Homo sapiens: one gene and its partners. The protein of the gene in region 3 purifies or fractionates together with the protein of the main gene of each other region. This does not show direct contact. Each region holds a gene or a part of one and is shown on either strand. Other genes may lie near its edges.

Region 1 (4,738 bases), on a different chromosome or scaffold from region 3:
GCGCCCGGCTAGTAGCTTTTATTTATTTTTTTTGAGACAGAGTTTCACTCTTCTTGCCCAGGCTGGAGTGCAATCACGTGATCTCGGCTCACTGCAACCTCTGCCCCCCAGGTTCAAGTGATTCTCCTGCCTCAGCCTCCCTAGTAGCTGGGATTACAGGCATGTGCCAACATGCCTGGCTAATTTTTTTGTATTTTTAGTAGAGACAGGGTTTCTCCATGTGGTCAGGCTGGTCTCAAACTCCTGACCTCAGGTGATCCACCCGCCTCAGCCTCCCAAAGTGCTGGGATTACAGGCGTGAGCCACTGCGCCTGGCCAGCTTTTAAATTAAATTAAAATTTTATTTAATTCTGCCTGTTAGCTCGGAAGGATGTGGTTTTTGTTTGATTGTTTGTTTTTTTGAGATGGAGTTTTGCTCTTTCGCTCAGGCTGGAGTGCAGTGGTGCGATCTTGGTTCACTGGAACCTCCACCTTCTGGTTTCAAGCAATTCTCCTGCCTCAGCGTCTCAGGTAGCTGGGATTACAGGCGCCCACCACCACGCTTGGCTAATTTTTGTATTTTTAGTAGGGACAGGTTTTCACCATGTTGGCCAGGCTGGTCTTGAACTCCTGACCTCGTGATCTGCCCGCCACAGCCTCCCAAAGTGCTGAGATTACAGATGTGAGCCACCGCGCCCGGCTGTGTTTTTAAATTCCTTTCTACCTGTTAAACATGGAGGTATCAAAATACATACCCACACAGAACGTGAAGGAGAACCTCAGCCCAGAGGCATTCTTGCCAAGTGAAACTCTTTATCTCTTTATTGAAATAATATTTCCAACTATGCTTTACCAGAAAGACATTTTTAAACATGACTTTATATACTGTACCACTAAGATACTCATCTGGCGGCCGGGTGCGGTGGCTCATGCCTGTAATCCCAGCACTTTGGGAGGCCAAGGCGGGTGGATTGCCTGAGGTCAGGAGTTGGAAACCAGCCTGGCCAACATAGTGAAACCCTGTCTCTACTGAAAATACAAAAAATTAGCTGGGCGTGGTGGCGGGCACTTATAATTCCAGCTACTCGGAGGCTGAGGCAGGAGAATCACTTGACCTGGGAGGCAGAGGTTGCAGTGAGCCAAGATCATGCCATTGCACTCCAGCCTGGGTAACGAGCGAAACTCTATCTCAAAAAAAAAAAAAAAAAGATATTCAGCTGGGGAAAGTATAAATATACAAACATACATAAACACACACATATAGGAGATACATCAGTTACATATTCCAGTGTTCAAAGGCGTACAGCATTTCAAACTAAATACATGTTTGCATCTTATTTTGACCTTTTTTGAATGTACCATGAGGGGAGAGAGAAGTGTGCAATTGTTTTTATTTCTAAAAAAAAGTCTTGAAGTCTAGTGAACTTACATATAACGATTGCTTTGTGTAAGTGAACAGTAACATTAAACACTTATGTACGTATGTGTGGATATATAAAGATATATATATAGAGAGAGATATATATATTTTTTTAATTTTTGAGACAGGGTCTTGCTCTGTCACCCAGGCTGGAGTGCAGTAGCACTATCTTGGCTCACTCCAGCCTCAGCCTCCCGGGTTCAAGCAATTCTCGTGCCTCAGCCTCCTGAGTAGCTGGGACTACAGGCATGTGCCACCATGCCTGGCTAAGTTTTGTATTTTTAGTAGAGACGGTTTCACCGTGTTGCCTAGGCTGGTTGTGAACTCCTGACCTCAAGTGATAAGTGATCCACCTGCCTCAGCCTCCCAAAGTTCTGGGATCACAGGCCTGAGCCACCACATCTGGCTGGATATAAATTCTTGAGTCAGGAATCTGAAGTCTTGTTTTTTTTTTTTTTTAAGAAACAGGTTGAATTTATATAACATTCAACCAAAGTACCTAGAGCCGAAAATACTGGTGTTACTCATCTTCGTGGAACACTTTTTTTTTTTTTACCCAGCATGACTGAGGTATGATGACCAAAACAATTGAATATATTTAAGATATACAACATGGAGATTTAATAGAGGTACAATGTGAAATGATTACCACAATCCAAGTAATTAACCATCCATCATTTCACATAGCTGCCCTCACTGTGGTGAGAATCCTTAAGATCTACTTTCCTAGCAAATTTCAAGTATACAATACGTTATTATTCACTGTAGTTACCATGTTCTACATTAGGTCTTCAGAACTTACCATCTTATAACTGAAAGTTTGTATCCTTGGCCAACATCTCCCATTTCCACTCCTCCCCTGATAACCACCATTCTATTCTCTGTTTCATGGAACACTTTAAGTTAATAAGTAAAATTCAACTGAGCACGTTGGCTGAAGCCTGTAATCCTAGCATGTTGGGAAGCTAAGGCTGGAGGATTGCATGAGGCCAGGAGTTTGAGACCAGCCTGGGCAACATAGCGAGATCCCATGTCTACAAAAAAGAAAGTAGCCAGGTGTGGTGGTGCACACCTGTAGTCTCAGCTGCTAGGGAGATGGGCGGGAGGATCATTTGAACCCAGGAGTTCAAGGTTACAGTGAGCTATGATTGCACCCATAGCACTCTAGCCTGGGTGATGGAGTGAGAGCCTGTCTCCAAAAAAGTAGATTAAGATAAGACTTCAGTAAAATTGGTTTTCAGATTTTTTTTATTTTGAGACAGTCTCGCTGTGTCGCCCAGGCTGGAGTGCAATGGCGCGATCTCGGCTCACTGCAAGCTCCGCCTCCCACGTTCACACCATTCTCCAGCCTCAGCCTCCCGAGTAGCTGGGACTACAGGCACCTGCCACCATGCCTGGCTAATTTTTTGTATTTTTAGTAGAGACGGGGTTTCACCGTGTTAGCCAGGATGGTCTCGATCTCCAGACTTCGTGATCCGCCCACCTTGGCCTCCCAAAGTGCTGGGATTACAGGCATGTGCCACCGCGCCCGGCCTGGTTTTCAGATTTTAATCGATGTGTCCAGTTAGCAGAACTCTCTGCCTTGATGTTCCTTTAAGCGAAGCCATTTGTTGTAGAATCTCTTACGTAGTCCTTTGGTTCTGCCTGGGCTCTTCTCTGAAGTAGGCAAATACATCACTTGATTTTGCTTCACTTGGTCTCAGACCACAAGAATTTTGCTGATTTTAAGAGTGAAGTATTGGAGCTGAGTCTTCAGTTACTGATTCTTTATTATCTGGTGCTTTTTTGATTAGTTGGAACAAATGTGTAAGTTCTAGGGTATCACCATACATTTATTCTTTGACCCCAATAGATTGAGATACTGGACATGAGGCTGAAGAGTTTATTAAAATTGGATTTAATGATTAGATTGCCAGAAGGTCTGTGGAAATTATTTCCTTCAAATTTTTCATGCTGATTTCCTTCCTGGGAAATTGTAGTCATCAGAGGATAGGTTTATTCTTTGTATTTTTGAGACAGGGTCTCGCTCTGTCGTGTAGGCTGGAGTGCAGTGACATGATCATGGTTCACTGCAGCCTTGAACTCCTGGGCTCAAGCGATCCTGCCACTTCAGCCTCCCAAACAGCTGGGATTATAAGCACACACCACCACTGTACCCAGTGAATTTTTATGTTTTATTTACTTTTATTTTTATTGTTGAGACAGTCTCACTGCTGCCCAGGCTGGAGTGCAGTGGTGTGATCTTAAATGTCTGCAACCTCTACCTCCCAGGCTCAGGTGATCCTCCTGCCTCAGCCTCCCAAAGTGTTGGGATTACAGGCGTGAGCCATTGTGCTGGGCCAAATTTCGATAATTGTATTTTCTACTTAGAAAAAACTAGGTTGATGGACTTAGGGCGAGGGAACCTTTGCAGCACAGTGCCTTAGGCAATTTGCTTTTTCTTTACCATATAGAGTTGGAATGGAAACTGTCTGAATCTGGAGCAATTATGACAGACCTGGAGGAAAACCCTAAGAAGCCGATTGAAGACGTGTTGCTGTCCTCAGTGCGGCGCTCTGTCCTCATGAAGAGGGACAGCGATTCCGAGGGTGACTGAGGCTACAGCTTCTATCACATGCCGAACTTTCTTGTGACAAATTGTCTGGATTTTTTAAAAAAGGAAAAAGCAAGAATGAATCCTTGTGGTTTTTAGTTTTGTATAAATTATGTTTCAAATCTTTACATTTTGGAAATAATCATTGCTGGAGATTCTGTTAAATATTTTGGAACTCTTTTTTTTTTTAAATTATAGTATTTCCTCTAAAAAAAATTAAAACCAGCCATTTGTATGGCAAATGTCTGTTTTCCTCATTTATATTTTAAGTAAGCCATAAAACCTAGTCACTATTTTTTGACATATAACTATAAAAAGAAATACAGTTTTAAATGTGAATAAATTATACAGTGGAAAATTGCAGACTAAGCCTTATAGATACATTGTTTATTTTTATTTTATAAAGAGAGCAGTGAGATTATTAAACTACAGGAATGGTCTCTAGGACAAAAGAATGTTAGTATTGAAGAAACAGACAATTTTTGTGAAACATTCCCTTATTGAAGCAATAACTGAAAGTTTCCAGTTTACTGCCATATTTGGTTAAATGTGTTTTCTTGTTAAAATAGTTTATCTCAGACTGTTAACTAATTTTTTTTTTTTTTTGAGATGGAGCTTTTCTGTGTTGCTGAGGCTGGAGTGCAGTGGCACAATCTCAGCTCACTGCAACCTCCACCTCCCGGGTTCAAGCAATTCTCCTGCCTCAGCCTCCTGAGGAGCTGGGATTACAGACGTGCACCATCACG
Region 2 (8,347 bases), on a different chromosome or scaffold from region 3:
CGTGTGCTTATTTCAAAATTCCAAAAGGAAAGGGAGAGAGTGAGAGGGAAAAAGATAAAAGAGAAATGGGAAGTACCGGGGCAAAGATGAGAGGGTGGCGGGGAGAGGTCAGGTCCCCAAGGGCACCGCTAGCATGAGCAGGGGCTCAATGTACCCTCTACCTGATCCCTTCCACCCGCCAGCATCAGCAGCAGGTGCTCCAGGCCGTAGAACGCGCCAAGCAGGTCACCGTGGGGGAGCTGAACAGCCTCATCGGGGTGAGTCTCTCTAGCCCCTGCCCCGCCATGGGGAGACGCCCACTCCCAGGTCCCTGGCACCCACCCAGGAGGTGTTAAAGCTGGGGTGGTGTGTGGGCCTTGGCTCCAGTGGTCCTGGGAACCCCAGGGGCACATGCTGTGCTTAGGTCCCATCCCCTGTGTCTACCTCTTGGGCTGGGGACCGCTGGGCTCCTGCCGCCCCCCGCCCCGGCCCATCCTGCCTCCTTTCTAGCAGCAGCAGCTCCAGCCGCTGTCCCACCACGCACCCCCTGTGCCCCTCACCCCCCGCCCAGCCGGGCTGGTGGGCGGCAGTGCTACGGGGCTGCTTGCTCTGTCTGGAGCCCTGGCTGCCCAGGCTCAGCTGGCGGCGGCTGTCAAGGAGGACCGTGCGGGCGTGGAGGCCGAGGGGTCCAGAGGTGAGTGGGCAGCACGGGGTGGCATTGGCTGGGGAGACGGGGCTGGGGAGGACGACTGGCAGTCCAGGGTAGCAAACATCAGCGTGAGGGGATGAAGTGGCTCATGCCTATAATCCCAACAATTTGGGAGGCCGAGGCGGGAGGATCGCTTGAGCCCAGGAGTTCATGACCAGCCTGGGCAACAGAGCGAGACCCCGTCTCTACAAAAATTTAAAAATTTGCTGGGTGGGATGGTGCACACCTGTATTCCCAGGTACTTAGGAGGCCGAGGCAGGAGGATCACTTGAGGCCGGGAGTTAGAGGCCAGCCCAAGCAACATAGCAAGACGCCATCTCTATGAAAAATTTAAAAATTAGTCAAGCACAGGCTGGGCATGGTGGCTTATGCCTGTAATCCCAGCACTTTGGGAGGCCGAGGTGGCTGGATCACCTGAGGCCAGGAGTTCGAGAGCAGCCTGGCCAACATGGGAAAACCCCATCTCTACTAAAAATACAAAAAAAATTAGGCAGGAGTGGTGGCGGGTGCCTGTAATCTCAGCTACTCGGGAGGCTGAGGCAGGAGAATCGCTTGAACCTGGGAGGCGGAGGTTGCAGTGAGCCAAGATTGTGCCACTGTACTCCAGCCTGAGTGAGAGAGTGAGACTCTGTCTCAAAAAAATTAAAATAAATAAATAAATAAATAAAAATAGATAGCCAGGCACGGTGGTTCACGCCTGTAATCCCAGCACTCTGGGAGACCGAGGCGGGCAGATCACCTGAGGTCAGGAGTTTGAGACCAGCCTGGTCAACGTGGTGAAACCTTGTCTCTACTAAAAATACAAAAATTAGCTGGGCATGGTGGTGGGTGCCTGTAATCTGAGCTACTCGGGAGGCTGAGGCAAGAGAATTGCTTGAACCTGGGAGGCAGAGGTTGCAGTGAGCCAAGTCCAGCCTGGGCGACAGAGTGAGACTCTGTCTCATTCATAAATAAATAAATAAATAAATAAATGCCAAGCATGGTGGCATGCCCCTGGAGTCCCAGCTACTCGGGAGGCTGAGATGGGACAATCACTTGAGCCCGGGAACTCGAGGCTGCAGTGAACTGTGACTGGGCCACTGCACTCCAGCCTGGGCAACAGAGCAAGACCCCAACTCGTAAAGTGTGAGGGGATCAATGAGAGCGGCTGCAAGGCCCTGGGGTTCAACATCACCCCCAATGGGCTGTGTGTCTTGAGGCAAGTCACTATCCCTCTCTGGGCATTGATCTGAATGCAGGGGAGGGATAATCCACCACTTGCAAGGGTGTTGGAAGGGTAGAGAGACTCTGAGTGGGGTGGTGGGGGCGGGGGGCTTTATAAACTGGAGGGCTGTACCCTCTGGCGCCGTGGATACAAACGCCTCATTCTTTCTCCTTCTTTCTCTTTATCCCATTCCCAATCTGTCAGTGGAGAGAGCCCCGAGCAGGGTAAGTGAGTGGCACCCTGGGACTCTTTTTATATTCTTGGGAGGCCAACGCTGGTTCTGAGCTGATGGGGGCCTCAGAATGAGACCTAGGTCGATCATGGTGGCTCACGCCTTTGATCCCAGCACTTTGGTAGGCAGAGGTAGGAGAATCATTTGAGGCCAGGAGTTTGAGACCAGCTGAGCAACATGGCAAAACCCCGTCTCTACAGAAAAATACAAAAAGTTGGCTGGGTGTGGTGGTCCATGCCTGTTGTGTCAGCTACTCGGGAGCCTGAGGTGGGAGGATCACTTGAGCCCAGAAGGCCAAGGCTGAAGGGAGCTGTGATCGTGCCACTGCACTCCAACCTGGGTGACAGAGTAAGACCCTGTCTCAAAAAAAAAAAAAAAAGAAAGAAAGAAAAAAAAAAACCAGGCCAGGTGCGTGCCTGTAATCCCAGCACTTTGGGAGGCCAAGGTGGGCAGATCACTTGAGGCCAGGAGTTCAAAAGCAGCCTGGCCAACATGGCAAAACCCTGTCTCTACTAAAAATTCAAAAATTAGCCAAACGTGGCGGCGGGTGCCTGTAATCCCAGCTACTCGGGAGGTCAAGGCAGGAGAATCACTTGGACCTGGGAGACAGAGGTTGCAGTGAGCCGAGATTGCACCACCGCACTCCAGCCTGTGCGACAGTATGAGACTCTGTCTCAAAAAACAAACAACAGCAACCACAACAATAAAAAAACAAGATCCATAGCCCGGTTTCCTGAAGCCTTTCTGTGTGGGAGATACCCAGAAGGCTGTAGTGTTTAAAACCCCAGTACTTTGGGAGGCCAAGGTGGGTGGATCACTTGAGGTCAGGAGTTCGAGACCAGCTTGGCCAACATGGCGAAACCATATCTCTACTAAAAATACAAAATTAGCTGGGTGTGGTGGTGGGCGCCTGTAATCCCAGCTACTCTGGAGGCTGAGGCAGAAGAATGGCGTGAACCCGGGAGGCGGAGGTTGCAGTGAGCCGAGATTGCGCCACTGCACTCCAGCTTGGGCGACAGAGCGAGACTCCATCTCAAAAGAAAAAAAAATTTCAACCTCCAGCTTTTTTCGGGTAATTAAATAAATGAATGCATGACCTTGGACCCTTCTTCCCATCCTCACTTCCGTTCGCCTAGCCATCAGCCGTTCAGCAATATCTGTGGGTGCTCCCCAACAGAAATGTCATGTGAGCTGTGTCAGTAAGTTTTTCAAAAAATGGTTTAATTTTTTTTTTTTTTTTTTGAGACTGAGTCTTGCCCTGTCGCCCAGGCTGGAGCGCAGTGGTGCAATCTCGGCTCACTGTAAGCTCCGCCTCCTGGGTTCAAGTGATTCTCCTGCCTCAGTCTCCCAAGTAGCTGGGACTACAAGTGCCCGCCACCATGCCCGGCTAATTTTTTTTTTTTTTTTTTTTTGTATTTTTAGTAGAGACGGGGTTTCACCGTGTTAGCCAGGATGGTCTCAATCTCCTGACCTTGTGATCCGCCCGCCTCGGCCTCCCAAAGTGCTGGGATTATAGGCGTGAGCCACTGCGCCCGGCCAAAATGGTTTAATTTTGAAATAATTATAGATGTCAGAGAGGTTGCAGAAGAAGTAAGGCGCTGGTTGCGGTGGCTCATGCCTGTAATCCCAGCACTTTGGGAGGCCGAGGCAGGTGGATCACCTGAGGTCAGGAGTTCGAGATAGGCCTGGCCAACATGGCGAAACCCTGTCTCTATTAAAAATACAAAAATTAGCTGGGCGTGGTGGTGGCGCCTGTAATCCCAGCTACTGGGGAGGCTGAGGCAGGAGGATCGCTTGAACCCGGGAGGCGGGGGTCTCAGTGGGCCGAGATGGCTCCACTGCACTCCAGCCTGGGCAGCAGAGCAAGACTCCGTCAAAAACAAAACAAAACAGAAGAGAGAACAAAACCTTAGCACTGAGTCAGCCGTTGGAAGCTCCCATTTCCCAGATGGGAAGCTTGAGGTCCGGACCCTAATAATGGTGGGGGACCCTCAGTCTCGGCTGGATCACAATGCAATCTAGGAGCCCAGGGCCCTGACCCTTTCTCCCCCCGGCCTTTGTCTCTCCGCAGAGTGCATCTCCCTCGCCCCCTGAGAGTCTCGTGGAGGAGGAGCGACCGAGTGGCCCTGGTGGTGGCGGGAAGCAGAGAGCAGATGAGAAGGAGCCATCAGGACCTTATGTGAGTGGGGGCAGGTGCAGGACTGGGATGGGCGTGCATGGCCCAGACCAGCCTGGCCCCTCAGAGCCTTCCAGAGCCCAGCTCTGGCCATAATTCTCTCACTCCGGAGCCTCCCATAGCTCCCTACTACTCAGAGTACTGACCAATCAGAGGAGATCCTGTAATGCAAGGCTTAACTCCAGTTGCTTGAAGTCTCTGCGGCCTCTTGGCCGTACAGCCATTTTCCCACCCTCTAGCTTTTGCTCCAGCTGTTTTCTTTCCCTAGAACACACATGTTTTAGAAACCCATTTTTCTATCAAGAAACAAAGTGCCACCTCCTACAAGAAGCCTTCCCTGACCACCTCCTAGAGGCTGGGACCTCCTCTCATTGCCAGACGGCTGCACACTTGTAGTTTCCAACTCTAGCATCCCAGGGGCCAGGCCGAATGTGGGGAATGGGGCTGTGGCCAGCTGGGGAGCCCCTTCTCCCACCTACAGGGGCAGCTGCAACTTGATCCCCGGAGACTGGCAGGCTCAGGGTGGGCCAATATTGCTGTTTCTCAGAGAAGCCTTAAATCTTCCTTTTTACCTAATAGCTTTTTTTTTTTTTTTTTGGCAATGAATTTTATTTATTTATTTATTTATTTATTAAGGTGGAGTCTTATTTTCTTTGGCAATGAATTTTATTTATTTATTTATTAAGGCGGAGTCTTTATGAAGGCGGTAAGGATGATTGCTGGTCTCTGGCTCTCCCCTCACCATGCAGAGGGGTAAACTGAGGCCTGAGAGGGCCGGGAGTCACACAGGGCACTCATGTAGTCCACATCCTTCAAAGTCCTCTCCACAAGGTGCCCACCTGCCCTGCCTCCCCACATCCTTCCCGGATGCGGGCACGTGCAGCCTTCCCTTCTGCTATGAGCAAACGGGTGCAGTGGTCTGAGAATCCCAGTCATGCCCCAGGGCTGGCTGGGCTCATGCCTCCAACTCCTGAGGAGCGGATAGGGGGTGTGGAGGCAGGGGCATGACCACAATGAGCTCTCTCCCCCATCTTCCCCCAGGAAAGCGACGAAGACAAGAGTGATTACAATCTGGTGGTGGACGAGGTGAGTCCAGGGGTCCAGCCTCTTCCCCGACTCTGGGCACAGAGCAAGGGGTGGGTTTTCTGGACTGGGAGGACCCAGAGGTAGTGGGGATCCTGGTTCCCCGCTCTGTGGGACAGCTGGGATGGGGTCAGGAAGCGTCAGGGACTCCGGGACACCTCTGGCCGACCTCCTCTCCACTGCACAGGGAGTGACTTCAAGCCCAGGTTCACTGAGTGATTTGTGGGCAGTGACACCCCCTTCCCTGGCCTCACTTTTCCCCATCTGTTCAATGGGAAAATAAAACCAAGCCTTTATATAGTCCTCGCTATGGGTGCTTATGGAGTAGAGCCTATCATTAAACCCATTTTACAGGCCGGGCGTGGTGGCTCACACCTGTGATCCCAGCACTTTGGGAGGCTGAGGCGAATGGATCACTTGAGGTCAGGAGTTTGAGACCAGCCTGACCAACATGGTGAAACCTTGTCTCTACTAAAAATACAAAAAAATTAGCTGGATGTGCTCGCTTGAACCCAGGAGGCGGAGGTTGCAGTGGGCCATTACTCCAGCCTGGGTAACGGAGCGAGACTCAAAAAAAAAAAAAATACATTTTACAGATGAGTAAACTGAGGCAGCAGAAGATTTCATAATCTTCCCATGGTGGGTCATGGGTACCCATTCTAGAGATTGGGGTGGGAGTCGGGAGGAGGATAGAGAAGGGACTCTTCTTTCCCTCTCATTTCAACTCTGCTCAACGTCACCTCCTCAAACCCAGGACCAACCCTCAGAGCCCCCCAGCCCGGCTACCACCCCCTGCGGAAAGGTACCCATCTGCATTCCTGCCCGTCGGGACCTGGTGGACAGTCCAGCCTCCTTGGCCTCTAGCCTTGGCTCACCGCTGCCTAGAGCCAAGGAGCTCATCCTGGTAAGGAGGAGGGGAGGGCCTTGAAACTCACTTTATTCATCCCGGGGGCCCCGAAGCAGACGCTACCCCATGATGCAGAGGGCAGTGATGAGAAATCAGCCAGCCGGGCTGGCATTGTCCACCCTTTCCCTGTGCTTTTTTTTTTAAACCTCCTGCTTGGACTGACTTTGTTGAACCTCAGTAAATATTAAAAGGCAACTTTGTAAAGAAGCTTTGTAGATAAATTTTAAAAGGCAATTCACTACCTTACATGGAAAGCAGGTCTCTCTCTTGCAATCAATAGGAAATCCCATGGAAATAAACATAGTGAAAGCCCAGCCAGCTAGGCTGGACTCAGGCCTGCATGTGTTGAGCCCTTCCAGAGGCGCTTAGAGACACACCGGCCCCAAGCTGAGATGTTGTCCCCGGAAGGAAAGATAATTAATATAGGAACAAGTTTTCAGTTGGACCTCCTGGAGTTTAATGCCAGGCATGTGAGCCATCTAAAAGCACCCCCAGGGCATTAGAAATTCAGCTCCTTTTGCAGCTCCCCTCACCCCAAATCTTCTCCAGACCCCTCCCCTACACTTACCAGGGAAGAGTATGTCGGTTTCTAGGCCTCCCCTCCCGGTTTCAAGGCCTCCCTTCCTGGCAGGTTACCATGGCAACCGCCAGAGGTTGGGGCTCCCATTCCATCTTAAGTGCCCACCTCCCACTGCGGGAAAAACCTTACAAGGGGATGGGTCAGCTCCGTTGTATTGGAGAAGCCCTCAGGGGTCCTCCCTGACCCCACAGTCGTCCCATCCACTCTCTCGCGGGTGCCGGTGTTGCGTGGCTGTCACTGTTTGTGCGATGGTGTCATGGGAAGCCGAGACAGACGCAAGACAAGGATGCGAAGTTTCTTGGGAGGCAGGGGAGGCAGGGGAGGCGATGACATGAAGCCGAGATAACAGAGCCTGCCCCTAGATGGAGGTCCAGCTGCTGCTTTCCTCAGAGCTCTCCTTGGGGAGGGACAGCTCTGGGTGACACCTCCCTCTCTGTGGGGGCTCAAGGAGGATTGCAGTGTGTGCTAGGCACTCTTCCTTCACCTGGGAATATGCCGCTGTGGGGTCTGCCTCTCCACGAGCCCATCCCGGAGTTTCTAATTCCTTGTTGTTCAAGAATCTCAACAGTGGCTGGGTGCTGTGGCTCATCCCTGTCATCCCAGGGCTTTGGGAGGCCAAGGCAGGACGATCACTCGAGAACAGGAGTTGGAGACCAGCCTGGGCAACATAGTGAGACCTTGTCTCTATGAAAAATTTAAAAAGTTAGCCGGGCATGGAGTCGTGTGCCTGTAGTGCCAGCTACTTGGGAGGCTCAGTCGGGAGGATCACTCGAGCATGGGAGGTTGAGGCTGCAGTGAGCTATGATCGTGCCTTTTGTTTGTTTTTCGTTTTGGAGATGGAGTCTCGCTCTGTCACCCAGGGAGGAGTGTGGTGGCGCAATCTTGGCTCACTGCAACCACTGCCTCCCAGGTTCAAGAGATTCTCCTGCCTCAGCCTCCCGGGTAGTGGGTAGCTGGGACTACAGGCACGTGCCACCACGCCTGGCTAATTTTTTGTATTTTTAGTAGAGACGAGGTTTCACTGTGTTAGCCAGGATGGTCTAGATCTCCTGATCTCAGGTGATCCGCCCACCTTGGCCTCCTAAAGTGCTGGGATTACAGGCGTGAGCCACAGCGCCTGTCTGATCATGTTAGTTTTGAGAGCAAGACCCTGTATTAAAAAAAAAAAGAATTGCAAATCTTGACAGCCTATAACTTTGTAACTTTGTTGCCTTTTTTTTGTTTTGTTTTTTGTTTTTGTAGAGTTTTGCTTTTGTTGCCCAGGCTAGAGTGCAATGGCGTGATCTCGGCTCACTGCAACCTCTGCCTCCCGGGTTCAAGCAATTCTCCTGCCTTAGCCTCCCAAGTAGCTGGAATTACAGGCATGCGCCACCACGTCCAGCTAATTTTGTATTTTTAGTAGAGATGGGGTTTTCACCATGTTCGCCAGGCTGGCCTCAAACTCCTGACCTCAAGTGATCCACCGGCCTCGGCCTCC
Region 3 (9,077 bases):
CAACATGACTGTCATGCAGCAAGTGCTCAACAGAAATTAACATGTAAAAAGGCCAAAATAATCTACTTAGTATATTTAGTTGTATGTTTATTCCATGAAACTGTATCATTTAAATTTAATTGGTGGTAGAAGGCAAGAGGAAGGAGAGAATTTTCTTCCTTAAACTATGTCACTTTTATATTTAGTGTTTGTCAGAATGAACATTAGGTACTATCTTACTAGTCAAAGTGTTATAATTTTTCTATCCTCTCAACAGGATAAAAAGTAATATATTGACCCCCATTTTTCTAAAGAGATGTGAGTTGATTGAAAATTAGAAATAACTAAAAATTGGAAATGAACTATCATTGAGCTATCAAATTAACTTCCGAAGTCATACCATAACATCCTCAGAACAAGTCTGAAAGAAGACGTAGTACACAATATTCTACTACTGTATCTTTACAAATATTAATTTAGAAATTACCATTTGGTCCATATGCTGTACGAGTGGTTTGGGCAAGCTCCTTGCAAGCTTGTATGTTTCTATACACAGCCTCTTCTAATCCTGAAAAGTGCTGTTAAAAAAAACAAACAAAAAACCCCGCTAATTAGACAGGACAGTGAAACAAAAATTTCAAATACAAGATATCTTTGCTTATATCTTGCCTCTAATAAAGAGGGAGCATAGCTTAGGTATTTGGCACAAGAGGGCTGGTTGCAAATCTTAGCTTTCTGGCTCTTTTTAAATTTGGGCAATTTTCTTAACATTTCTTCATTATAAAATGAAGTAATTATAATAGTACCTAACTCATAGGATTGTTGAGACAATCAAACAAGATTTTTTAATGTAAAACACAGCATTTGATATTCATAAATGATGCATACATTTCCTCTCTAGTTGAATGAATAAAGTATAACATTTTGGGGGACCGCAGGTACCTACTTACACATCAAAAGACTTAAAATTTTTTTTATTAAAAGTAGTGAAAAGTACAGGGAACCATGCTAAGACTAATTAGAGAAAGGGTATGAGGTACTTCAAGTAGAATACCTTTCCAGAATTTATCAGTATTTTCTAACTAACTGTTGAAATGTGGAATATTCTTATTGTGTTAGAATCTGGGCTTTTGTAAAGCCAGAAGTTCTTTAAGTATGTGCCACTGAAGTGTTTAGAGACTGAATACTTTTTTTGAATTGCAACATTATCCCAATGTATATGTATTGAAAAGCGAACTGCTCACGGTACTAAAAATTCTCACAAATTCTACACTGGACTTTTTTAGAGTTGAGGTTTACTTGGGTCCTCAGATATATTTCACTAATCTACTGTGCATGAGAACATTTCTTTAGAGAAGCGCTGCCCAATACAGTAGCCACTAGCTACATACATGGGGCTAGTGAAAGCAATCAAAATAAACTTTCAAGTAATTAAAATTAAAAAATTCAGTTCCTCAATTGCAGGAGCCACAGTTCAAATGCCCAGTAGCTACATGTGGGTAGTGAATATCACACTGGACAGCGCTGATACAGCGTATGTCCAGCACTGCAAAAAGTTCTATTTACATAGTACTGCTTTACAATACAAGCCATGATTTTGTGATCCAAAACCAAGGTTAATAGCCATTACTCTTTTTTGAGAGAGAGAGAGTCTCCTCTATCGCTCAGGCTGGAGTGCAGTGAGCTGAGATCGTGGCACGATCTCAGCTCACTGCAACCTGGGCCTCCCGGGTTCAAGCAATTCTGGAGGCTCAGCCTCCTGAGTAGCTGGGATTAGAGGTGCGCGCCACACCAGGTTGGTTTTTTTTGTATTTTTTTGAGAGGCGGAGTTTCACCATGTTGGCCAGGAACTCCTGGCCTCAAGTGATCCACTGACCTCGGCCTCCCCAGTGTTGGGATTACAGGTGTGAGCCACCAACCCCTGCCAATAGCCACTGCTTTAAAAGCATCTTCAGCAATAAGAACTGTTATTCCAGCAATAACACTTAAGTCTGAACTCCTGGCTTACACTCTTGCTTCTTCCCCTCACTCCCCATTCTGTGAGAAACTACCATTTGATCAGATCCCCTCATTCCCATACTTAAGACCCTTCAATGGTTTCCCAACCAGCTTAGGATAAAATGCAAATCCCTTTTCAAGGAAACAAGGCCCTACGTATCCCGGCCCTTGTATGGCTCCTCCTCTGAACTTACCATTCTTCCTTTCTTTGGTAAGCTTCAGCCCTACAACCTGTTGTTGTTGTTGTTGTTTTAAAAAAAAAACAGGTCAAAATCATTCCTTCCTCAGGGTCTTTGTACTAGTTAGTCCCTGAGCCTGGCATTTCCCCCTAAGTAAGAGGTCGGGGGAAACAGCCCAGGCTCAGGGGCTTCTCTCACTAAGCACTGAGCTAAGAGTTCTTCCCTAAACGTCTAAGTGTTCTGTCTATTCCTGATCCTTCTTTTACAGACATTTTTACCTCCTGTCATCCTCTACTATAGTGCAGTTTCTTTCATCATTATTTGGAATTCTCCTTTTATTTAATCATTATTTCTGCCTTAGAAGGACATAAACTCTACGACAAATGGGACTTTTGTCTTTCACTGCAGTTCCTTCAGTACCTATTTATTGAAAGAAATAGCTCAGTGTTCTGTAAAAAACTACTAGCACTGGAATGACAAATAATGTTTTGTGATACACGAGTTTTCCAAAACTGTATTAGTGAAAAAAACCCAAATTGGAAGCTATTATCTCAGCCTGATTTTTTCAAGGGAATCAGCCCATATCATTTTCAAAAGATTATTCCACCAACATTTACCTTGAACCCTGACATTTACTTACTATACCGACATTATTTGAAAAGTGCATCCTACAAACATGAACCTAGTTCTATTAAACTGTTAATGCTCCCCGTACCTCGCATAAAACCTTAAATTCAACCACACTGATCTATTTCTTGAATTAACAAAATCTGGAGGACACACAGAGGAATGCAATTTGAATAGCACAAGAGACAAATTTATCAATAGTGCAGTAAGATATTTTTTAAAACTATGCTACCGAACTAACGTTCAAGAAAAGGCCATTAAACAAAAGTGTTATCTGCACCCCTCTATCACTTATCCTGCAGATTACACAGAACTCAAAGACACCACCTCTTGGTCCAATCTCCATAATTTAAAGACGAAGGAAACAAAACCCAAGAAAGTTACATTTTAGATTAAGCCAGCTAACATAAGTTGGGACCGGAACTCATTTGGCTACAACGCATGGCTTCTGTCAACTAAGCTGAAAGCCGTATGTTTCTCACTGGGAAGCAAGCAACCAAGACCCGGCCCTTTTTCCCACTCTCTTCTCTGGATCGGCTAGTTCTCGTTCTTCCCCATCCTACAACTCGCGAGCTATGTGATAATCGACGTCGCAGTTCTCAAGACAATTTCATCTACGTTATTCAATTTCACCCTCACAACCTCCTTTAAGGGTGACGGGCCTTAGCCCCATTTACGGATGGAGGCAAAACGCACGCGCGGCTTCACATCCGTCCACCTTCAAGGTGTACAATGTCGATCGTGCCGCCGATCCCTCGGCCTTCTCCCGGTCGCGGAAGAAGAGAAGTGCCCGCAGGCTCCGGTGGCCGAGCCCTTCCAAAATCACCTCCCTTTCTGGAATCTTCTCTTCCCCCGGCCGCTGAGCCAGGGCAGCACGCTCAGCCCGTTAGTAGGCCCTCCTACTTCGCCGCGGCCGCCGCAGCCCTATGCTGACGCTCCCACCTCATTCCTTTCCTTCAGCCCTTACTTTCGCTCCCTCCTTGAGCATCTGGGCAAAGCCCGGAGCCTTGGGAACGTGAAGCGCCATGGCCAGCCTGCAGGAAGCAGTTCACGCGACCGCTCGGAAGACCGCGGAGGAAGCGAGGAGCACGCACAGCCTTCTGGGAAAGCAGCGTGGGGCCGCCTCACGCTCTTCCTGGCTCTCCAATTAGCCCACCCTTTCCCTGCCGCCAGGTCTGAAGCATCGCGAGAAGAGCAACCTCTGTGGCCAGAACCAAGCTGACGATCCCCGATCGGGTCGATCGATAGGGCGGGCCCAGGGAGCCCCTCGGGTTTCTGGCTCACGCACGCGCAGACAGCCCAGGCCGTGAGAGGTTGCTCCAGTCTGTGCTCTCTGACCGTAGTCAGTAGTCACGGCGTTAGATTTTTGCGGTTTTTGATCTGGAAGCCACACATCCTTAGCTTAATTTCCACGTATCTTCCAGACCCAGCCACCAACGTCAGGGCAGGTGTGCTTTTTTTTTCCCGAGGCAGAGCATCTGCCCCATCCCCCAAAATTGTCTCTAGGCGTCCGCTCTGTGTTGGGCACCATAGGAAGCGCTGGGAATGCGCACGATAATTAAAGTCGTCACTAAGAGTAATGTAGTACACATCAAGTGCTCAAGTGTGCCATATTCTGTGTGATCTGCTTTACATGCAGTATCTCTGTTAATGGTCAGTCTTAAAAATTAATGAATTGTCGGTTAAAATACCATTTAGTTTTCCTTCCATAAAATGGAGACGATACCATTAAAAATTAAAAATTAAATGGTACTGTCTCTATTTTGTAGAAGGGAAACTGAAGTTCACAAACTGTAAATAATTTTCCCAAGATCACAGAGCTAGTAAATATTAAAGCTAGAATTCCTATCTAGATCAGACTTATTGCAAAATGCCGGTTCTTAACCACTATCTATATTCCTCTTTTCTACTTCTTCCTGGGAATATAAATCCCTTTTACTCTTTTAAGATCAGATATAAATACATATTTATTTATCTGATTTATATATATAATATACACATTTTATATAAATATATCTGATTTATATATGAATTTATAGATAAATATAAATCCCTTTGGCTTGGTGGCATGCACCTGTAGTCTCAGCTGCTTGGGAGGCTAAGGTTGGAGGATCTGCTTGAGCCTGGGAGGTTGAGGCAGCAGTGAGCTGAGATCATGCCACTGCACTCCAGCCTGGGCAAGAGTGAGGCCCTGTCTCAAAAAAAAAAAAAAATTGCAAAAATGTAAATGCCACTGATATGGTTTGGATTTTTGCAAAAATGTAAATGCCACTGATATGTTTGAATTGCCTGCCCAAATATGATGTGGAATTATAATCCCCAGCTGTTCTTGTGATAGTGAGTGACTTCTCATAAGACCTGGTTGTTTAAAAGTGTGTGGCACCTCCCCACTCTGTCTCTTCCTCCTCCTCCAGCCTTGTAGGATGTGTCTGCTTCCCCTTCACCTTCCACCTTGATTGTCAGCTTCCTGAGGCTTCCCCAGCCATGCTTCCTGTACCGCCTGTGGAACTGTGAGCCAATTAAACCTCTTTTCTTTATAAATTACCCAGTCTCAGGTAGTTCTTTATAGCGATTCGAGAACGGACTAATACAGCCACCCTTTTCATTCTTGGAAAATAGAGATATTTTAAATAAAAACATACATATTATCATGTGATAGGATTATTATTTTTTAAATAACGTTAAAAATTTATCAGTTTTAATTTCTAATATAGCAAATATTCATACCTATAACCCACATAAACAAAAGACCTTTGGGGAAGTTAATTTTTAAGAGTCTAAAGGTGTTCTGAGACTGATACGTTAGAGAACTACTGTAATGATCAGTCCCGAACAACAGAACAATCCAAGATTTTTCCTGGATTAGCTAAGAAATAAACAAAAGCACATTCCTCTGACTCAGAGATAATATTACTTATAAAAATAGCTAACACAAAATAAAATTGAAATAAAACTGAAAGGAGCTAAAATGACACCTGATTAACATATTAATATATATTAATCTATATTTAAAGTGACTTTGAGGCCTAGGTTCTGGTCCTTGTCTCACTGGTATCTTCTCCATTTGGCATTAATGTCTTGTATTCTGGCCCCAGTACCTGGAATAGTTCGTGCTGTCTGCTTTACCACTTCTGCCTCAGGGTCTTTGCCTCTGCTGTTCTTCCTACCTAAAATGCTCTTCTATTCCCTTATGGCTGAATTAATTCTACCTCAGTATGCAGACACTTTCATTAGAAAGTCTTTGATGACTCCCAAGACATTCCCTGTTTGTCATTCTCATAGCTTCTGTGTTTCTCCTTCATAGCACTTACCACAGTTGTAATGACAGAATTATTTGTCATCTTTCTCCACCAGCAGGTAGGTGGTGAATCACCAGCACTTATACTGTAATTGGACAATGCACGGAGTAAGGAGTCAATAAATCATCATCAAATGAACTACTGGGTGACCAAATGGATATCCAGAAGAGGAGATCGAAGAATTAAGGTGCTGTGGTCTCAATGTTTGTGTCCCTCCAAAATTCATGTTAAAATCTTAGGCCCTGAAGTGATGGTATTACGTAGGGCCTTTTGGGAGATGATTAGTTCATTAGGTCTCCACCCTTATAAAAGATTAGCGCTCTTATGAAAGAGGCCCAGGGGAGCTTATTTGCCTTTCCACCATGTGCTGACACAGCTAGAAGGTACTATCTATGAACCAGGAAGCAGGCCCTCACCAGACACTGTATCTGCTAGCACCTTGATCTCGGACTTCCAGCCTCACGAACTGTGAGTAACACATTTCTACCGTTTCTAAGCCACCCAGTTTGTAGTATTTTGTTATAGTGTGTCTGGAATTGGTGGGTTCTTGGTCTGACTGACTTCAAGAATGAAGCCGTGGACCCTCGTGGTGAGTGTTACAGTTCTTAAAGGCGGCGTGTCCGGAGTGTGTTCCTTCTGATATTCGGATGTGTTCGGAGTTTCTTCCTTCTGGCAGGCTCGTGGTCTCGCTGGCTCAGGAGTGAAGCTGCGAACCTTCGCAGTGAGTGTTACAGCTCTTAAGGCACGTCTGGAGTTGTTTGTTCCTCCCAGTGGGTTTGTGGTCTCGCTGGCTTCAGGAGTGAAGCTGCAGACCTTTGCAGTGAGTGTTACAGCTCATAAAGGCAGTGAGGACCCAAAGAGTGAGCAGCAGCAGGATTTATTGCAAAGAAAAAAAAAGCTCCCACAGTGTGGAAGGGGACCCAATCGGGTTGCCACTGCTGGCTCTGGCAGCCTGCTTTCATTCTCTTATCTGGCCCCGCCCACATCCTGCTGATTGGTAGAGCCCAGTGGTCTGTTTTGACAGGGCGCTGATTGGTGTGTTTACAATCCCTGAGCTAGACACACAGGTTCTCCATGTCTCCACCAGAGTAGCTAGATACGGAGTGTCGATTGGTGCATTCACAAACCCTGAGCTAGACACAGGGTGCTGATTGATGTGTTTACAAACCTTGAGCTAGATACAGAGTGCCGATTGGTGTATTTACAATCCCTTAGCTAGACGTAAAGGTTCTCCACGTCCGCACCAGACTCAGGAGCCCAGCTGGCTTCACCCAGTGGATCACGCACTAGGGCTACAGGTGGAGCTGCTTGCCAGTCCGCCGCCGTGAGCCCACACTCCTCAGCCCTTGGGTGGTTGATGGGACTGGGCGCTGTGGAGCAGCGGGCGGCGCTCGTCGCGGAGGCTCGGGCATGGCGGGCTGCAGGTCCCTAGCCCTGCCCTGCAGGAAGACAGCTAAGGCCAGGCGAGAAATTGAGCACGGCAGCTGCTGGCCCAGGTGCTAAGCCCCTCAACTGCCCGGGGCCGGTGGGGCCGGCAGGCGGCTCCGAGTTGCGAGGTCCGCGGGGCCCACGCCCACCCGGAACTCACGCTGGCCCGCAAGCACCGCGCGCAGCCCCGGTTCCTGCCCGCACCTCTCCCTCCACACCTCCCCGCAAGCTGAGGGAGCCGGCTCCGGCCTCGGCCAGCCCAGGAAGGCGCTCCCACAGCGCAGTGGTGGGCTGAAGGGCTCCTCAAGTGCCGCCAAAGTGGGAGCCCAGGCAGAGGAGGCGCCGAGAGCGAGGGAGGGCTGTGAGGACTGCCAGCACGCTGTCACCTCTCAATAGCAGCCCAAACAGATTAAGACATGGGAGGTATGGTCTCTATTCTTACCATCCAGACGTATGTGAAGTAAAACCAGAGAACAACACAAAGCAATCAAGAGGGTTTTTGCGCAGAGTTTGCAAAACGCCAAGGAGACTGTAGGTTTCTGTTATAGTGATTCAAAAGCCTGGGATCCTCATGTTAGGTGCTGCCTGAAAACATGGCCTCCAGCCTCCAGGAGAGCTAAAAGCCGTGAGGATTGGGGGTTGGGGATGTCTGAGCCATCTTAGGATTCTGATAAGGACTCAGTTCACTATTTGTTTCTAGTTACTTTGTTTCTGTTTTTTTCATTTTTTGTTTGTGTTAAAGTTTTAACCCCTGTACGTCAGAATTGTTTAATGTTTTTGGCTTGTCTATGTGTTTTGATTTTTTTTGTATTATTATTTAATTTTCCCAATTCCCATTAAATCCTTAACCTCCTGACTTTTCTTTTTCTGCCTCCATTTGTATTGTTTATTTCATGTTACTATATCATCTTATGTTTCAGTATTTTTCTGTTGAATTTTAATTCTTTTGTTTGGCTTTGGAGTCTGACTCATTTTGTGTTGGCTCATTATTTTGCTTCAGGATATTTTTGTTGTTGTTAAAATCTTTTAATATTCCTTTATAAATTTAAATTTTTTTCTCTTTTAATCGAATTTATTTGGGCTTAAGAGGGCACAATAATTTATACCCTTATTCACTTTCTGAGTTTGGAAACAACCAAGAAAATAGAGGGGTCAGGAGGCTGGAATTCAGAGTCTCGCTGGACTACAGAGAACGTGGCTTAGGGTGAAAGCACAGGCATGCTGGGCATCATTGCTGCTTTGCACTGATCAGAGAAGGAGAGACTTTAAATGGGTTAACTCCATGCAATCAAGAAAGGTAGCCCCATGTCAATCCCTTACCAGTGAGGTAACTTCCAATGTGGGTCAGAAGGAGTGGATTGAGAGGCCGAGAACTGGGGGTAACCAAAAGAGTAAGACTAAACAATACTCTCCTCTCAATATAATTGTTACTTTTGTTCATCTCCCTGTAAACCTCCCTCCCACTCTTCTGCCTTTTATCTATGGAGTGGGGATGAGGTTGAGGGGAGACTCGGCCTACGACTACCATGTTGGTCCCACAGCTCCACTTAGTTTCTGTCAAGCACAC
Region 4 (8,347 bases), on a different chromosome or scaffold from region 3:
AGAGATGTGAATTCAGCTGTCTTCTGTTAAAAAGACATTAGATTTGCATAAAATGATGGCACTTCTCACATTTTTGCTTTAGAAAAGTTATCTTCATAAAAAACATTTATGCTAAAATGTAATATGTTGCTACTTAAAGAACAGATATTTATTTATTTATTTAGAGACACAGTCTCACTCTGTCGCCCAGGCTGGAGTGCAGTGGCGCAATCTCAGCTCACTGCAACCTCTGCCTCCCAGATTCAAGCAATTCTTGTGCCTCAGCCTCCCAAGTAGCTGGGAATACAGGCATGTGACATCACGCCCAGCTAACTTTTTTATATTTTTAGGAGATGGGGTTTCACCATGTTGCCCAGGCTGGTCTTGAACTCCTGGCCTCAAGCAATTCCACCCGCCTCGGCCTCCCAAAGTGCTGAGATTACACGTGTGAGCTACCATGCCCGGCCGAGAACAGAAATTTTTAAATTCTCAGTTTTAACTTCTAATGCAATATTGTTAAATACCTCACATAAATAAAAGCTCGTTTTCAATTCTTTACATATATGGAGAATTTGAGTGTAAGAGGGTCTCAAGACTCAAAGTTTAAGATACACTGCCCTATAGTTCCTGGCCAAAAGCAAGCATACAACAGTGTTAAATCACTTTTCACCATTTTATCCTACCTAGAAATACCTTTCCCTCTCAGCACCAACACTGATATGTCAAACCAGATTATAAACGCTGAATAATGGGAATAGTAAAGAAACTGTTATACGTACTTACATACAAGAATAGTGGTTATATGCAATAAACAGAAAGTGGAGGAAACAGTATCTGTCACATACTTACAAGAAAGCCTTCTCAAAATTAGTATGGGGAAGTTCCAGGACTCAGTGGCACAAAGAGCTCTCTGTTAGTATTTCCTAGCTCAGGTTTGTACTAAGCAATAATGACGGCTAACATTTTCTGACCTTTAATGTGTCAAGAATTGTTTGAAGGCACTTACTATCATATATGCAGAAGAAACTGGGGCTGAAATACACCCAGAATCTGTGTCGTTAATCATTATATAAGATGGCATCCCAATGTATCAATACTTATTAATATTTGAGTAAACACTTAACTGAGTAAACATCTGATTATCATTCAGGATTCACATAATTCTAGTAGTTGGGAGTCCGAAATTCACAAAAGCTATTCCTTTCTGTCATCTAAAATCAGACCTCACTCTTTCTCACTGACAGGTTTGCAAGTTTCTCCCCCTCAGAAGTCTGGTCTCGGCCGGGCGCGGTGGCTCACCCCAGTAATCCCAGCAATTTGGGAGGCCAAGGTGGGCAAATCACAAGGTCAGGTGTTCGAGATTTAGTGAAATCCCATCTCTACTACTAAAAATACAGAAAATTAGCTGGGCATGGTGGCAGGCGCCTGTAATCCCAGCTACTCAGGAGGCTGAGGCAGGAGAATCGCTAGAACCCAGGAGGCGGAGGCTGCAGTGAGCCGAGACTGCACCACTGCACTCCAGCCTGGACAACAGTGTGAGACTCCATCTCGGAAAAAAGAAAAGGTCTGGTCTTTTTGTCTCGCTAGTTTGGCTCAAGTATTTGATAGTAATTTAAATAAAACGCTCAATTCAAACCACATTGAGGAAACATACAAGTACCTATAAAGATTCCTTCTTAATTTACTATTTAAAGTTTTAAAATACGTGATTACAACTGCTAGATATGACATTAGTGAAAGCTATGTAACACCCAATATACCTAACCTTTTATTATGAAAACTTAGATTTTGATTTCTCCAAATCTTGAGAATGAGAGGTAGGACTAGGGGGAAGGTTAAAATGGTGTCAGACAAGTCCAGTTATGCATCATTTACCAAAGGGAAACTTCCTGAGAGATGCACAGTGAGGTGATTTTGTTGTTGTGCAAACATCACAGAGTGGACTTACACAAACCTAGATGGTATAGTCTATTGCTCTTAGGCTACAAAGCATGATGCACAGTATGTTACTGTACTGAATACTGCAGGCTACTGTAACACAATGTGCTTGTATATCTAAACATATCTAAACACAGAAAAGGCACAATGTATATACAGTAATAAAGATAAAAATATTTTTCTTTCTTCAAGAATAAATTAACCTTTGCTTACTTAACATTTTTTACTTTAGAAACTTAAAAAAATTTTTAAACATTTTGAATTTTCTAGTAACGATTAGCTTAAAACAAAAGCATATCATACAGCTGTACAATATTTTCTTTATATCCTTATCCTATTAAGCCTTTTCCTATTTTTAAAAATATTTTTCACTTTTTAAACTTTTGTTAAAAACTAAGCCATATACACACACATTAGCCTAGGCCTACAGAGTCAGGATCATCAGTAACACTATATTCCGCCTCCACATCTTCACTGGAAGGTCTTCAGGGGCAGTAACATGCATGGAGCCATCACCTCCCAGGATAACGAAGCTTTTTTTCCTGGAATGCCACCTGAAGGACATGCCTGAGTCGGTTTTAACTAGTTTTTTAAAATAAGAATATATTCCAGGGCCCTGCGTAGTGACTCAAGCCTGTAATCCCAACACTTTGGGAGGCCGAGGCAGGCGGATCACCTGAGGTCGGGAGATCAATACCATCCTGGCTAACACGGTGAAACCCCGTCTCTACTAAAAATACAAAAAATTAGCCAGGTGTGGTGGTGCACGCCTATAATCCCAGCTACTCAGGAGGCTGAGGCAGGAGAATCACTTGAACCTGAGAGGCAGAGGTTGTGGTGAACTGAGATCGCGTCACTGCACTCCAGCCTGGGCAACAAGAGCGAAACTCTGTCTCAAAAAAAAGAAAAAAAAAAGGTAAATATATAACATAGCTGTTTATTACCATTATCAAGTATTATGTACTCTATATAATTGTGTTATACTTTTTTTTTTTTTTTTTTTTTTTTTTGGAGATGCAGTCTCACTCTTTCGCCCAGGCTGGAGAGCAGTGGTGCAATCTTTGCTCACTGCAACCTCCACCTCCCAGGTTCAAGTGATTCTCCTGCCTCAGCCTCCTGAGTAACTGGGATTACAGGCATATGCATGCCACCAAGCCCAGCTAATTTTTGTATTTTTAGTAGAGATGGGGTTTCACCATGTTGGCCAGGCTGGTCTCGAACTCCTGACCTCAAGTGGTCCACCTGCCTTGGCCTCCCAAAGTGCTGGGACTACAGGCATGAGCCACCACGCGTGGCCTGTTGTACTTTTACACAACTGGCAGTGCAATAGGTTTACACCAGCACTACCACAAACAAGAGTAATGCATTGCACTATGACATTATGCCTATGATGTCACTAAGTGACAGGAATTTCTCAGTTCCATTCTAATCTTACAGGACCACTAACTACCTTACATGAAGTCCACTGTTGACCAAAACATCATTTGACAGAACATATGACTATACTCAAACCAAGAAAGTGTTTTGGTCACCTTGCAACTGACCAGATGGGAACTTCTGTTACTTAGGGATATTCTGATTAACATTCTTAGAATAAAATTCCTTTATGGTGAAATATGCTATGTTAAAACCTCCCAATTATGCAAGGGTGGGCATGCATCAAAAAGCAAACGCTATTCCCTCTGGGATATGCACATATCATCAATATCTCCACTTGTCTTTGCACAGATGCAGGTAAATTTGGCAAGGGAGGGTTCTGAGGCCAGTGATGTTCACGAAGGTTATACATACTCTCACAAATCACTGTGCTCCACATGTGAATAGTGCAGAGGCAGAATAAAGGACAACTGCCCCCGCCCTTTTTCCTACTGTATGACAAGTACCCATCTAGACCAAGGACTGACTTCCTCTATCAAATCAGGAAAAAACTGGCTACTGGTTATTTATACTTGAATAAGCCTTGAAATGGCTATTTAAAGCTGCTAGAAGCAGTGGCTGCTGCCTAAGGGTATCAATCTGTATCCAATCACAAATCCTAGAAGACTCCACTGGGAATCCCCATCTACCACACCACTGCTAAACCTACTGACATTTACAAACTATTTCTTCCCCTTGCCTCCCTATATGCCACCAACATTCGAGAATAACCTTTCAGAAATACATAACAGAATTTAAGTCAGTATTTCTAAGAATCTTAACATTCCTTCATACCTGTATTACTTTACCTGTTAGAAATGTTTGAAAATGGGGCTGGGTGCCTGTAATCCCAGAACTCTGAGACTGGCCTGGGCAACAAAGTAAGATTCTGTGTCTACCAATTTTTTTTAATTAGTGGTGCATGCCTGTGGTCCCAGCTACTTGTGAGGCTGAGGTAGAAGGATCACTTGAGCCCAGAAGGTTGAGGCTGCAGGTGAGCCATGTTCATGCCACTGCACTCCAACCGGGTGACAGAGCCAGACCCTGCCTCCAAAAAAAAAAAAAATTAATTAAAAAAAATTAAAAATGCATGGCATTGGAATGTATACTCTTTTAAAAGTAATAAACGTGGAGAATAAGGAAGAAAAAGACCTACTAGATGCAACTATCTTCCCCACTAATCCTGACTCTTAATGTGGCTTTGTCTCTAGACTCAATTTAAATAATGTATTAAATCCCAACGAATCTTCATCTTGGATTTAGATATTTACCAGAAAAGCTCCAGGTCTGCATTCAGATAGCAAAATAAAAACACCTCTGGGCTACTTCTTCAAACTGTCAGTTTCCCTTACTTGCTGAACTTAATTCAGAGAAAACAAACACCTAATCTCTGAATCAGTTAAAAAATATGCCACGACCTTATGTCTCCTCTAGTATCTCATCCAGAAGAATCAAGGAGATAAAATATTCCTCGGGTGATCTCCCCCACTCCCCAACATGCTCTTTTTTCTAACAAGTCTAGCTGCACATCCACACAAAACACCTTCCCTACAGAAGTGGAGGTTGTCGGCAACAACTGACACTTCTTTCCAACCACCTAACCTTTAGGTTGCTGGGTCAGAATTAAACAATTTAATCAGTAAAGAGGCCTTAAACAACCTGGCAGCTCATCAAAAAGTTAAACATAGGGCTACCATATGACCTAGAAATCTCACTCCCAGCTATATACCCAACGGAATTGAAAGTATATGCCCACAAAAAAAAACTTCTACACAAATGTTGATAGCAGCACTACAAGTATTCACAATAGCCGAAAGAAAACAAAATGTCCATCAACTGATGAATGAATTAAAAATGTGGTGTATACATACAATGGAATATTATTCAGCCATAAAAGGAATAAAGTACTGATACATACTACAACAAAGATGAATGTTAAAAACATTAAAAGAAACCAGTCACAAAAGACAACATATTGTATGATTTCACTTGCATGAAACGTCCAGAATAGGCAAATCTAAGAGACAAAAAAAAGTAGATTAGTGGGGGCCGGGAGGGAATGGAGAGAAATGGGGTGTCTGCTACCGGGAACAGGGTTTTTTGGGGGGTATATGTGTTTGAAAATATTATACAGTTCACTGTGGTGATGGCTGCACAACTCTATAGTATACTAAAAATCATATCCTCTAAATAGGCAAACTGTATGGTATGTGAATTATATCTGGATAAAGCTGTCATTTTAAAATGGAGGGCTTTAATATGCTTTCATTAATCGATTTCATTTTTCAAATCCATTCATTTTTTTTAACCTTCAAAAGGACACTACAGGCTGGGCGCAGCACCTCGCACCTGTAATCCCAACACTTTGGGAAGCCAAGGCTGGAGGATTGCTTGAGCACAAGGGTTCAAGACCAGACTGGGCAACCAACATAGGGAGACCCCGTCTCTACCAAAATAAAAAAAATTAGCCAGCCAAGGTGTCATGTGCCTGTGGTCCCATCCACTAGGGAGGTTGAGGCAGAAGGATCGATTGAGACCAGGAAGTCGAGGCTGCAGTGAGCCATGATCAAGCCACTGCATTCCAGCCTGTCTTGAATAGGAAAAGTTAAAAGTGTAGTCTGTCAGCCTAACTAAATCTTAAGAGTACTATACCTGTTTCACAAGAAAGAAAAGGGAGATACGCACTAAGAGATCACAAGCAGTGTCACAAATTCAGACATCTGACAGGTCAAAGTTAAATGAAAAATGAATTTAAAAAACAAAACAGGTACAAACACATCCCACGATTTTCATAAAACTGTAAGTGGGCCAAAAATGTAACACAATCACATTTTGCTATGGAACTTTACACAGTGCTAATATTCTACAACTCATATTGTAATAGTCAAGTTCAGCTTCGTGGTAATATGTTAAAAAATACTTTAAGAAAAACTTTTCTATCACACAGCAAATCGCTTTTCGGTATTTTTGAAGACATTTCAATGACAAGGGAAAATGTTCATGATGTAATACTACATGAAAAATTAACTCATAAAGCTATGTAAAGAATATTCTAATGATGTAAAGCATGTGAATTTTACAAAGTATGTTAAGTATCTTTAAACAAAAATATATCAAAATTTCAACAACGGTTATCTCTGGATTGTGGAATTACAGGGGACTTCTTGAAAGAATGCTGCCCTTTCATAATCAGGAAAAAGCAAATTCTAAACAGTTTCATATTATCACATATATGACACATAATAGACATACTATATCAACTGGCACATCCCAGTTTTTAAATACCTGGATCAAGACTGTGGTTGGGAACAGAGCTGGCACTCTTATTCACCCAGCAGCAGTTTTCCATACTAACCTCCTCCCAAATGCATTAGATTCTACTCATTCCACTTCACTTCCTCCAAAATAAACTTAGCACTTATAGTTTGAATGAAGTTCCCCAGATGATTCTGCTATACTCCCATTTCCCACCCCTCTTTGAGAACCACTCATCTAAGTAAGAAGCTTTTACCGGATTTTCCAGAATACTCATACAAACTAGCTTCAATTTAAATGATCAAAACACTATGGTAAGCCACAAGAATGTGGCCAACAGGGTCACTACAGGGGATAAAGTAGAAGTCTTTGGTTTTTAGTTCTAAGCAAAAGTTAATCCAAGAAAACATACCGAAAGAATATGCACCGTCCAAATAATAAAATCAATATTTCTGTTTTACATTAAATGGCATGTTTGTATTAAAATGACCTAAAGGACTCTTTGAAAATATCATATCAAGGTCAGGCGCGGTGGCACATGCCTGTAATCCCAGCACTTTGGGAGGCCGAGGCGGGTGGATCACTTGAGGATGGAAAGTTCGAGACCAGCCAGGCCAACATGGTGAAACTACTAAAAATACAAAATTAGCCGGGGCGTGGTGGCATGCTGTAGTCCCAGCTACTTGGGAAGCTGAGGCAGAATAATCGCTTGGACCTGCAGGGGCAGAGGTTGCAGTGAGCCAACATCACCCCACCGCACTCCAGCCTGGGTGACAAGCGCAAAACTCCGTCTCAAAAAAACAAAAAACAAAAAAAACTTATCAATAATACGCCCACCTAAAAAAGAAAAACAAAAAGCAACTCATAAAATGTAGTCACCAGAAGTGTGTATAGCTGATCTGCGATTTAATACAGTAAAAAAGAAAAAACAATCAGGAATATGTTGTGGGGCTACAATCAGCATTTTAAAATGAGATCAGGTCCTGCTGAATGTTTTCCCCTAATGCAGAGAAATTCTTGCCAAATTTTTACTTACACGTTCATTTGACACTAAAAACACTAACCATAGTTATTCTTGCTAGGCAGCTTTACAAAATATCACTAACTAGCATCTAATATCACTGAAAATCCAGGTGGACAAAATTTTCTTTGAAGATTAAAAATAATTATTTACTAGAAAATTCAAGTCTGCTCTGGACAAGTCTTTCAACAGGTCTGGATCTGGGAAGGAGCTGAAAAACCTAGAATATTTAAGAATCCCTTGGGGGCACTGTCAAACTAAATATGCTTCTGTAGGATGAAGAAGTACTGATAGAATGTGTGCTGAACATAGGACAGAGAGGAGGCTGAAAAAGCCTGAAAGACACTTGTTTAGACTGGGAGCTCCTTGAGTGAAGAGACTGTGTCTTATCTTAGGATTGCTGGTGCCTGGCAAGGAGGAGGTCAACTTGTTAACGCTTGCTAAATTAAGAGAGAAACGTATCTGGACTACAATTCTTACCCGCCCCCCCCCCGCCCCCCCAAAAAAGGAAAACAGATTGTACAAACCAAATATTTAATTTGAATTCACAAAAACAAATGGAATCACTTATTTTTCCCCCAGTGTCTTTTCTAGTAACCTTGCACAACCCACTCGTGAAGTTTAAGTACCTGTAATCATATAAAGGTGCGTCTAATTTAAAAGGATACAAACATTTTAAAACATAAATCTGTTTTATGCCTACAAAATATATGGAAAATGAAATAAAATATAAATAAA

What was found.
Region 1: the proteins of CCT8 (region 3) and PDCL3 purify together in Homo sapiens (affinity purification with mass spectrometry; 3 studies listed by BioGRID and IntAct, with this or other methods). This does not show direct contact.
Region 2: the proteins of CCT8 (region 3) and TLE2 purify together in Homo sapiens (affinity purification with mass spectrometry; 3 studies listed by BioGRID and IntAct, with this or other methods). This does not show direct contact.
Region 4: the proteins of CCT8 (region 3) and PPP1CB purify together in Homo sapiens (affinity purification with mass spectrometry; 2 studies listed by BioGRID and IntAct, with this or other methods). This does not show direct contact.

Annotation. Positions count from the first base shown.
Region 1 is NC_000002.12:100,572,502-100,577,239, forward strand, and holds the end of PDCL3 (phosducin-like protein 3), read left to right. Parts: intron 1-3,852; coding exon 3,853-3,995; 3' UTR 3,996-4,238; downstream 4,239-4,738. UniProt on the Homo sapiens protein: Acts as a chaperone for the angiogenic VEGF receptor KDR/VEGFR2, increasing its abundance by inhibiting its ubiquitination and degradation.
Region 2 is NC_000019.10:3,011,609-3,019,955, reverse strand, and holds part of TLE2 (transducin-like enhancer protein 2), read left to right. Parts: intron 1-182; coding exon 183-257; intron 258-489; coding exon of another isoform or gene 490-492; coding exon 493-673; intron 674-2,096; coding exon 2,097-2,116; intron 2,117-4,195; coding exon 4,196-4,303; intron 4,304-5,341; coding exon 5,342-5,386; intron 5,387-6,137; coding exon 6,138-6,287; intron 6,288-8,347.
Region 3 is NC_000021.9:29,069,781-29,078,857, forward strand, and holds the start of CCT8 (T-complex protein 1 subunit theta), read right to left. Parts: upstream 3,869-9,077; 5' UTR 3,811-3,868; coding exon 3,751-3,810; exon of another isoform or gene 2,175-3,750; coding exon of another isoform or gene 2,172-2,174; intron 558-2,171; coding exon 467-557; intron 1-466. UniProt on the Homo sapiens protein: Component of the chaperonin-containing T-complex (TRiC), a molecular chaperone complex that assists the folding of actin, tubulin and other proteins upon ATP hydrolysis.
Region 4 is NC_000002.12:28,754,101-28,762,447, reverse strand, and holds part of PPP1CB (serine/threonine-protein phosphatase PP1-beta catalytic subunit), read right to left. Parts: intron 1-8,347. UniProt on the Homo sapiens protein: Protein phosphatase that associates with over 200 regulatory proteins to form highly specific holoenzymes which dephosphorylate hundreds of biological targets.